Homo sapiens: one gene and its partners. The protein of the gene in region 2 purifies or fractionates together with the protein of the main gene of each other region. This does not show direct contact. Each region holds a gene or a part of one and is shown on either strand. Other genes may lie near its edges. The genes, in order: MPRIP, DOT1L and ACIN1.

Region 1 (3,650 bases), on a different chromosome or scaffold from region 2:
GGGCTGTCTGGGGATTCTCAGCAATGCCATCAGAGCATTCAGAAAAGGGTGTTACCAGTCAACTCTACCTCTTATTTCTGTGACTGTACTGTGCCCCATTTCTTCCTGGGAGAAGTTGGTATGGTAGGTGGGGACAGGCTGCTATGAAATGGAAACCAGCCAACCCTGGACCTTCCTGCGTTGCTGCCAGGTGGGACCCACAGGAAGGAAGAGAGAGCACGTGGGCAGAGGCTGGCTGTGTCTGGTCTGGAGGGACACGGTGAAAGGCCCGTAAAACAGGGATGAGGGACTTGTCTGCTGGAGGGAACCAAGGCCATTCCACATATAGGGAGTGGCCTGGCGGGCACCGGGCTGGGAGCCTCTCAACCCACAGTGGGTTGGGGGTACATAGAGTCCACTTCTGGGAGCTGGGGGTTGGGACTCTGCCACTAGCCAGCTGACAACCTCCAGCTGGTCACTTAATGCTCAGGTGTTGACTGAGGGAGTAAGATCAGGCTACAGGCTCCCCTTCCTTCTAGCCTGTGTCTTCTTTCTTACTCTTTTCTTAAAGAAGGGCACCAATGACTTAGCACCTCTGCTAACTCTAACAAGTACATGACAGGAGACCTGCTTTCCAAACTCTCCTGTGCCTCCCTAGAGCGACATAGGCATGCCCCAGGATGGGAGCAAGCCACACCAGGAAGCCCAGGCCTGGTTATCAGAGCTGTGCTCACTAACAAAGCAGGTGAGCGTGCTGCACAGCTGCCGGGAAGGGTGGGTGTGCAGCTATTTTGAGCACGGAGGCACACACTTTCTGTCTAAATCCTTCAAGTGGTCTGCTTCAGAGAAGGGACTGGGCCTCTCGCTGAGTTTTAAAAACTGGAAGAACGTGGCCACATTCCATTCCAAATTCAAGTGTGGGGGTTTCCCCACTCTGGGCTGATAGCCTGCACCACTTGGTTAATCTTCTTGCATGTGGATTCAAGAAAGGATACCAAGAAATCCTATCAGCATGCCTGGGCATTTTTCTCTGGGCCCACTTTTGGTGATGGCCAACTCTGAGAGCCTCAGGCAGTATTTCCAAACTCGTGGTCAGTCTGGACTTGACTGCAACCTATGTGCTGCTCTGGGTGAATGTCTCAGCTATTGCCACTATTAACTAGGCGTCCCATCCCCTCTCCCAGCGGCTCCACCTGGAAGCATCTGTCTCTTTCTGCCACCCTCACACCTCAGGACGGCTGCAGGAGCTCGGAGCTCTGGAGCTCCTGGTCCTCAGGCCCCAAGGTTGAGCTCTTCTTTCTTCCTCCCACTCGCTTCTGTTTGTATGTGGCTTCTCAGTTAACACATTTAACTAATAGGTCTTTTTTAATTAAAAAAAAAAAAAATATATATATATATGGAATACTTCATGAATTTGTGTGTCATCCTTGTAAAGGGGCCATACTAATCTTCTCTGTATCATTCCAATTTTAGTATATATGCTGCTAAAACGAGCACAACTAGTATTAATAGATCTTTTAAGTCTTTTTTTTTTTTCTTTGAGTCTACTTGCTGGGAAAAGTCTTATTTTGATCTGAGTGCTTTGGAATATTATGCAGGTAAGAGTCAAAAATCTAACAGAAGCACTGGGACATCTTTAAAGACCTAGTTGCTTCTTTGGAGAGAAACTATATGCTAAAAAATAATTGATCTTGCAAACAAATGTTAATTTAAGCCAATCATTCCTGACACCAAAAGAAGTTCCCCGATGACTGCAATCGTGGTGTGGTGGGAGCCTGTGGATGTCAGAGGACGGCTGTTAGGCCAAGACCCTGTCCCCAACGACCCAAGTGGAAATCTGCATAAAGTGATGAAATCTCAAGGTGCTGTCTATTTACAAGTTCTGTAAGTCTGCAGGGGTGGGTGAGAACACCACACCTGGGCTAGAAGCTCCCAGGCACAGGAGGGGACACTATGCAACGGCAGCTAAGGCAGCAGGGAGTGGACAGTGTCCAAGCCCCTGGGAGGGGCCTCATCCCGACCTGCATCATCTGTTTCTCCCTCCTAGTGACACTGGCCCAGCACAATCTCTGGTCAGTTCTCAACATAAGGCAGTCCTCTTTTTTCTGATTTCTTGCTCACTGTTGGTATAATGGCACCTGCATGGGGCCTCCCCTGCACCTGGTTGGCTAACCTAAAGCAGCCTCGGTGTGGAGGGGCCTCTTATGGATGCAGACAGGAAGCAGGGCATTGCTGTGCCCAGGCCCTGCCCCCATGGACCCTGCTGATTGTCTGGGAAGCTGCAGGGAAGGGCACTAGCAAGCGTATTTGGGGTCAAAGCAAAGGTTTGTGCAATTAACTTTTCAAGGTGCACCTGGATCCACCCATCTCAGTGCTGCTCTTGGTGAACTGACCACAGTGCCATCATATACACACACTTTGAAAACATAGCTGTTGAAACCTTCTCACAACTCATAATGGTTTTTAAAAGGTTTTGACTGATTTGGGGAAAGAATGGTGAAAAAGAGCTTCTCAGTTCTCCTGAGGTGCTCGCTGACAACCACACCTGTGTGTCTGGGTGGGGCCGAGTCCGTCACACAGAGGTGACATGTGAGCTGCTGTTTCCATTCAGAGCTACAGGAGTAACGGGCTGGGAAAAACAGGTGTCCTGCTAGACAGTGGCTGTGAGGATGTGTAGGCAGGAGCAGTGGCAGCCACCTGGGAGTCAGGAGCTTGCAGCACAATGGTGCTGGCTGTGTGCGCGCCTGGCTCTGCCACATGAGCGTGGAAGGCACCACCTGAACATGGCTTTTGAGGGGCCTAGTCATCCTAGTCATTTACTGGGGCAGCTTCCTGAGTGGAAGGAACATAAGGGCACAGGTATCATGGTAAACTTTTGAGTCTAAGGGATGATGCTTGACAGCCACACATGGTGGGTGTGGCCTGCAGCTACAAAGGGTGGGGCCAGACAGCTGGGCCTCCACTCAGCCCACCACCACCTCCAGGGCCTGGCATTTCGCCTTTGTGCTCCAGGACCTCAGGGGCGGGGATGCAGGACAGTTCTGGGGAAAATCTACTTGTAAAGGTCCTGGGGAAGGGGACAGGAGTGGCTGGAGGCTGTGCTCCGTGGGAAAGTTCTTCTCACCAGAGCACACATCAAATGCCAGTTCCAGAGAGGGACCCTCCGCCCGACTGTGCTCTCCTAGGGCAATCAGGAGGAGACTGCCCTCCAACTGGGCCCTGGCTCTCCGGGGTGTTGCTGTGAGTACAAGGCTGTCCTCAGGCAGCTGCCTCAGATTTGGGCTGGGACTGGGCCAGACGGGGTTCCCGGGGCAGGGGCAGGAAGGAGGCAAGGCTGGCAAGGGGATTGGGGGCTGCTCTCAGGAACACGGAGAGGCCGCATTAGGCAGGCAGGGAAGTGCTGGGAAGACTACGTGCTCCTCTCCCACCAGGGACCCTGGCGGCCCTCCTGCTAGTTCTCCTCCTGGTGGAGGACACTGGGGGATGCCGAACAAGAGGCTAAGCCTGCGGCCCAGGCCCTGCTGAGACCACACCATGGCTAGCAAGTAGAGGGACAGCAGCATATCCCCTCAATTCTGCCTGCACGGTAGCTGAGCCAGACGTCCCCACACCCACCCCATTATCAAGGAAGATCTGCTCTGCAAATTGAATGGGGCGTTAAGACCTTAAGG
Region 2 (3,650 bases):
TGTCGAGGTAGACATGCTGGAAGTGAGTTGAATCGGGGCTGCCCAGTAGGAAACACAGAACTGATGAATCCCCGGGTACCCGTATCTGGTTCCGCAACTCCTCTGTGTTGACTGCGGAGAGCACAGGAGGAACCGTGTTGGGTCCTTCCTACACCTCACACTGCTGGAAGATAAAAACAGCTCCAAGCAGTCCGTGCCCAGTGAGGCATGCAAAATGCATCAGGTCCAGAGAGACAAGAGCAAGGATTTCAGTCACGCCTCCCAACCACACCAGGGGCAAGCGTGGAAAGGCATCTATCTGTTCCTGCATCCTGGTCTCGGACACTATCTTCCTGTTCCTGGAATCTGTAACACCAAGAGTGATTTGCAGCCATCAATGGCCAATATTACTTGAACAAAAATTCTTTTTTCCTTTATCTAATTTTGTCTGTTTGTTTGAGACAGAGTCTCACTCTGTCGACCAGTCTGGAGTGTAATGGCATGATCTCAGCTCACTGCAGCCTCCCCCTCTCGGGTTCAAGCAATTCTCCGGATTATAGGCAACCGCCACCACGCCCAGCTAATTTTTGTATTTTTGGTAAATACGGGGTTTCGTCATGTTGGCCAAGCTGGTCTCGAACTCCTGACCGCAGGTGATCTGCCCGCCTTGGCCTCCCAAAGTGCCGGGATTACAGGCATGAGCCACCGTGCCTGGGCAACCGTGTGTTTTTTTTAATTAAACTTTTTATTTTAAGATAATTGTAGATTCACACTGTCGAGCTAAAGGAAAGGAACTGGAGCAAAATTAATATAAGTGGAGCATTTATTTGGGCCACATTTGAGGACTGCAACCTGGGAGCACAGGCTCGAATTACCCCAAATATACACTCTGATGAGCAGCAGATAACAAGCAGATTTTTAAAGGAAAAAAAGAGCTGGGCGTGGTGGCTCACACCTGTAATCCCAGCTACTCGGGAGGCTGAGGCAGGAGAATCACTTGAACCCAGGAGGCGGAGGCTGCAGTGAGCCGAGATTGGGCCACTGCACTCCAGCCTGGGAGACAGAGCGAGTCCGTCTCAAAAAAAACTCTCCTCAGAGGCTAGGCTGGAGTGTCCCTGTATCATCTGCAGAGTTTCTGGACAATTCCCCGCCCCAGTACCCCCTGCAACCTCTTTCAGGCCAGCAGGAACAAAGCAGTGTGCATTTGCTATAAAACGGAACACTTGGGTTTTTTCTATTATTCCTTCCTATTTAAAGCGACTCCTTTACTCACACAAAGCTGCCTAAAGGTTAATCTGCCTCCGGGGGAGCTGGGATTACTCAGGACACTCAAGCTCAGAGGTCAGCAGCAGAAAATACCTTCTGAGTCACGGTGGGGACAGCTCACCCCGCCCCGGCTGCTACTCACTGCTGGCTGCCCACTCACCGCCGCCCACAGCCGGGCTCCAGGCCAGGCTGTCAGGCGGAACATGTACTCACTCATTAATGAGAGTCAGAGAGTCCGGACCCTTGGCCAGTGGAGGCCGCCCCTGCCCGCCCACAGCCTGTGAGTCACCAGGGGGAAGGTCCCGTTCTGTGGCCTTTGAAGGTTCTTTCCGAGCAAACAACCAATAATGCCACTTGTGCCCTTCCCACTAGAAGAAGGGCAGGGCCATCCTGCCCTAGAAATACCACGCAGGGCCAGGCACGGTGGCTCATGCCTGTAATCCTAGCACTCTGGGAGGCCCAGGCAGGTAGATGACAAGGTCAGGAGTTCGAGACCAGCCTGGCCAACATAGTGAAAACCTGTCGCTACTAAAAATACAAAAAATTAGCTGGGCGTGGTGGCGGGTGCCTGTAGTCCCACCTACTGGGGAGGCTGAGACAGGAGAATCACTTGAACCCAGGAGGCAGATGTTGCAGTGAACCGAGATCACACCGTTGTACTCCAGCCCAGGCAACAGTACGAGATTCCCTCTCAAAAAAATAAGAAATGCCATGCGGGGCTTGAGAAAAGCGGTTATCCAGGAACTCCCAGGTCATGTAAGAATAAAAATCTCCCTTCCTCCCCCTTGCGTTTGCCAATTGGGCAAACCCCTTCCGAACTGCTCATTTCCGAGCGTGGACAGTTGTGGCTATTTCTGCTTCCTCCTCCGGATGGCCCCTCCTCCAAGCAGCCACCCACAGGTCCCCCAGGGCAGAAGTGGCAGCCCCTCCCTGGGGACCTCAGCTGACCTTGTACTCAGCACAGTATCTCTGCTGAACTTCTATTTATAATCTACTTAACTTCACTGTTTTAAATTTTTTGGTAGAGATGGAGTCTCCCTATGTTGCCCTGGCTTGTCTCAAACTCCTGGGCTCAAGCAATCCTCCCGCCTGGGCTTCCCAAAGTGCAGGGACTACAGGCATGAGCCCCTGTGCCCGGCCTGTCTTCATTTGACAGGTTTCTTGAGACTAAGAATGCTGGGGCGGTGGCGGGGGGAGAATATTGGCTTGTTGTCCTCTGTGCCCCCACAACACTGAGTATTCAGTAGCTGCTGTTGGAATGAATCATGAATAAATGTGCTGCTGCAGCTGCGTCTGGGCACGGTGGTTCACGCCTGTCATCCCAGCACTCTGGGAGGCCGAGGTGGACGGATCACCTGAGGTCAGGAGTTTGAGACCAGCCTGGCCAATATGGTGAAACCCTGTCTCTACTAAAAATACAAAATAAGCCAGGCATGGTGGCACAGGTCTGTAATCCCAGCTACTGGGGAGGCTGAGGCAGGAGAATCACTGAAACCTGGGAGGCGGAGCTTGCAGTGAGTGGAGATTGTGCCACTGCACTCCAGCCTGGGCGATAGAGCAAGACTCTGTCTCAAAAAAAAAAAAAAAAAAAGAAAAGAAAAGAAAATCAGAACCACCCCTCACTTCTTGTGAGAAAGCAAAATTCCTCAACGGGAACACAGAAAATGACAAATGTCACGGCGAGGTTGTCAGAAGGCTGCCTCTGGCACTTGGGCGAATGAAGATGCTGGGCCCGGCAGTGGGCCAACCAGAGCAGGAAGAGGCCGTAGACGGCGCCAGGACCAGCACACCCTGCCAAGCCAGGGCCTGGCCAGGGAGGGAAAGACACGGCACAGTCCCGCCCACCACTAGAAAGCCCGCTCCCGCCAGCTCTCGCCCTTACTATTTACAATGGAGCACTGGCCAGGCAGGGCAGCAGGCATGCGGGCGGGGACACCAGGGCTGCCTTCACGTGAATGTTCACTTCAGTACCAAGGAAAAGGCAAAGGGTCCCTGGCAAGACCACTACCCCAGGCCCCGACGCTGGGTTCCAGTGGGTTTCTTAGCACTGACAAGTGGCAACTGTTGGGATGCAGATGTTAAACAGACGCTTAGCACAGGCCGTGCGGTCCACCCCTGAGAACCTCGCCACGCGAACACTGACTTTCACCAAAAATCCCGCCAGTGGTGTTTAGTGCGGGTTTATTCTAATCACCAAAAATTGGAAACAGCCCACAGTCCTGTGACCCACAGGCAAACACGTCAACAATCTGTGGCCCAACTGTCCAATGGATTTACAGTCAGCAAAAAAATGGGGTAACTTTTGAAACCTGCAGCAACACGGATTTGGCCGCCTGAAAGCCACCAGGACCAAAGGGCAACATGCTGTTGATTCCATTCAGCCAACTTTCTGAGAATGGCAGAAC
Region 3 (3,186 bases), on a different chromosome or scaffold from region 2:
GGAGCCAATAGATGCAGGGAGCTGCCTTGGTCTTTCGGAAAAGGTCATCCAGCAGCTTGGCAGGTGGTTCCTCCTGGGCTTTCTCTGAGGTGGAAAAAAGTGAACCAGATATGATGCATCTGACCCTCTGTCCCATCCCATCTGGGTCCCTTTCCCACCTACTAGTGGGTATGCGTACCCCATAGCTAAGTACCTACCTTTCTTCTCACTCTTCTTTTCTTTAGACTTCGCACGTTCCTTGCGGCGGCGGTCACGGGACCTTGATCGGGAACGGGGCCCTTCTCGAACTTTGTCCCGATCCCATTCACGCTCTGATCGAGTCCGCTCCCGCCGCTCCATTTCCCGTTCCCGTTCTGCCCACTGTTCCCGCACTGCCCGTTCCTGCTCCCGCTGCTCTGCCCGGGGGTGCTGTGGTGGCTGGACCGGGGGTGGGGGTGGGGGGTGCAGGGGCCGTGGTATTCCCTGCTCCTCTGTCTTAGTTTCAGAGGGACGGTCCACCAAGAGGCCTCGGTGATAATCCAGCTGTGGGGAGAGGAGGGACAAGGACAGTTAGGATAGAGGTGATATCACTCCCACTCAAGGAGCCAGGATGGCCGGGCGCGGTGGCTCACGCCTGTAATCCCAGCACTTTGGGAGGCCAAGGCGGTCAGATCACGAGGTCAGGAGACCGAGACCATCCTGGCTGACACGGTGAAACCCCGTCTCTACTGAAAATACAAAAAAATTAGCCGGGCGTGGTGGCGGGCGCCTGTAGTCCCAGCTATTCGGGAGGCTGAGGCAGGAGAATGGCGTGAACCCGGAAGGCGGAGCTTGCAGTGAGCTGAGATCGCGCCACTGCACTCCAGCCTGGGAGACAGCGAGACTCTGTCTCAAAAAAAAAAAAAAAAAAAAAAGGAGCCCAGGTACCACTTTGAAGCCCCATGGTACAATTAAAGGAACCAAAGCCAGGGAAGAAGAGAAAAGAACAGAAGCTCAGAGACTGCAGGTCTGGCAAGGATCTCAGCTGAAATCTAGCAGATAATGGCTTCCCCTGCCCCTCCTCTCTTTCCTCTCCCTAGGTTTCTTACCTCATCTTGCTCGGCATAGTCAGCACAAAGGAATTTGGGATTGGACTGGGGCCATTTGACCCCGTGCAGAGCTGTGCGGGTGGCAACAGCTTCCTCTACTGTTGAGTACTGGTGGAGGAAGGGAGAAGATGGAGGGTCACAGTGTGTCTGCAACCCTTCCCACGTGCTGCAACACCCTTAAACCTGCCCACACTGGTCACAAAAGGAAATATATGCCATGACCTATAGAATCAGCTTCTTCCCCTCACCGTTACAAAGCAATGAGATTTGATCTTGTCAATCCAGAAGGCCTCTTCCACCAAGGTTCCTGTGCGCCCCAACAACTCCTTTAGCTGGCCTAAAGTGAAAGGACGGACCTGCCAATGAAAATAGACTTTCAGGGTCTAGCAGAAGGCAAGACCACCACCCAATCTTTAGATTTCCCGAGCTGCTGTCACAGGAGTATAGTTTCAAGGTTTGGGGGAGGGCAGAGAGTTTAGGAACCTTGCAGTAAGAATGTGAGAAGAGTGGTGGTGCTTCCCAGCACTAATTGAGACGTTGTATGTGAGGCCTTCTGCAAGTCCTCAAAACAACCCTGCAGGGCAACAGCTTTTCCCCCTCATTTTTAGATGGGTAAATATGTTAAGTAACTCACTCAAGATCAGTGAGTAACTTAATCTATTGGTAGACCAGTTCAACTATGAGTGGAACCTAGGAGGCATAAGCCTAAAGCTCAAACTTAACCACTAAGCAAGCTGGGATGGTGAGAAACAATGACTTACCAAATTGGAGATATGGACAATGTTGCTAATCTTGCCCCGGGGTGGGGAGGGCACCTGGGCAGTTCGGACTGGGTCATCAATGGTAATGGAAACTCCGGACTTCTGCTGGCTAATGGAACGTCGAGTTAAGGTATCTCCTAAAGTCACTATCAAGAAGACCACAAGAACAGCTTTTGGTAGGAAGCAATACTGGCTCTTTTCACCCTCAATGTAACTCTCACGGTTCCCTTTCTTTTATACCAAGCAGCCACTCCTTAATCTAAACGTGCAGAGCACCTATAATCTGCAAAGTACTGTGCTAGGCTAACCTCCTCATCATGGAGATTCAAAGATTAAACAGAGTCAAATCTGGCCCTCAAGTAGCTTACTTAATATGTAGGAGAAAGATATGATATACGAAAAAATATAATGAAAGGCAGGAAACATTCAAAGCTTTCAGCGATCCAAATGAGGTGCTCTGAGAATTCAGGGAGCCGCATTACATTTCTCTCACAATATGTCACTCACCTTTCTTTACTTCATGCTCTGCAGGTGGGGGCAAGGCCACCTCTACTGACACCTGGGGAGGTACAGGAGGTTCTGCTTCAGGTTCCTTCTCTTCTTCCTCTTCTTCCCTCTGCCCATTCTCCTGGCCCTCTGCAGGTACTACCTATCAAGGTGTCAGAGAACACAGCAGGTCTGTTAAACACCAAACTGGCATATTCTTTTCAGCCTCTGGTTCCCCGGTAAGAGTAGCAGTCAATCTAGCATGTTCCTTCCGCTAGGGGTATTTCGTTATCGGCTCACTTCTACCAGATCCTGGGATTGTTAGTGCCTCAACTTTGCCTTGAGGAAAACTAAGACAGGAGTTAGTAAATTTTTTCTGTAGAGCAAAGCAGTACTTCAGGTTTTGCAGGCCACATAGTTTGTTGCAACTACTCAACTCTGGTGATGTTGTAGTGAACAAACAGCCACAGACAAAAGTGAATGAACTCGTGTGGTTGTGTTCCAATCAAACTTTATTTGTAACAGGTAGCCAGCTGGATTTGGTAGTCTGACCCCTGAAAGTGTCAGTCAACCCAACCCTCTGCACAGACAGGGAAGTTCCCTCCAAAGACTTTATCTCAGCTCCTCAGCTAGCTGCTCTGCATCTACTGCTCCCACCTTTCCCCTGACACTGGGGTGCAGAAGCCTTACCTGAGTGACTGTCCGGCATATTTTCAGCCCCTTGTCATGGGTCCCATCATCGCCATTACGCTCTGTCTCATCCTCAGAGATGCGAGAGTCATCAGCATGAAGATCCACAACAGCCTCCTGCCCCGCCAGGGGTTTGATGTCGGGGATGAGGCTCTGGGACACAGATACCCCCCACCCCGTTA

Evidence for each region.
Region 1: the proteins of DOT1L (region 2) and MPRIP purify together in Homo sapiens (affinity purification with mass spectrometry, with the first as the bait; one study listed by BioGRID). This does not show direct contact.
Region 3: the proteins of DOT1L (region 2) and ACIN1 purify together in Homo sapiens (affinity purification with mass spectrometry, with the first as the bait; one study listed by BioGRID). This does not show direct contact.

What each region holds. Positions count from the first base shown.
Region 1 is NC_000017.11:17,167,909-17,171,558, reverse strand, and holds part of MPRIP (myosin phosphatase Rho-interacting protein), read right to left. Parts: coding exon 3,644-3,650; intron 1-3,643. UniProt on the Homo sapiens protein: Targets myosin phosphatase to the actin cytoskeleton. Required for the regulation of the actin cytoskeleton by RhoA and ROCK1.
Region 2 is NC_000019.10:2,166,921-2,170,570, reverse strand, and holds part of DOT1L (histone-lysine N-methyltransferase, H3 lysine-79 specific), read right to left. Parts: intron 1-3,650. UniProt on the Homo sapiens protein: Histone methyltransferase. Methylates 'Lys-79' of histone H3. Nucleosomes are preferred as substrate compared to free histones. Binds to DNA.
Region 3 is NC_000014.9:23,061,101-23,064,286, forward strand, and holds part of ACIN1 (apoptotic chromatin condensation inducer in the nucleus), read right to left. Parts: intron 3,158-3,186; coding exon 3,005-3,157; intron 2,478-3,004; coding exon 2,336-2,477; intron 1,975-2,335; coding exon 1,829-1,974; intron 1,424-1,828; coding exon 1,316-1,423; intron 1,176-1,315; coding exon 1,068-1,175; intron 523-1,067; coding exon 198-522; intron 85-197; coding exon 1-84.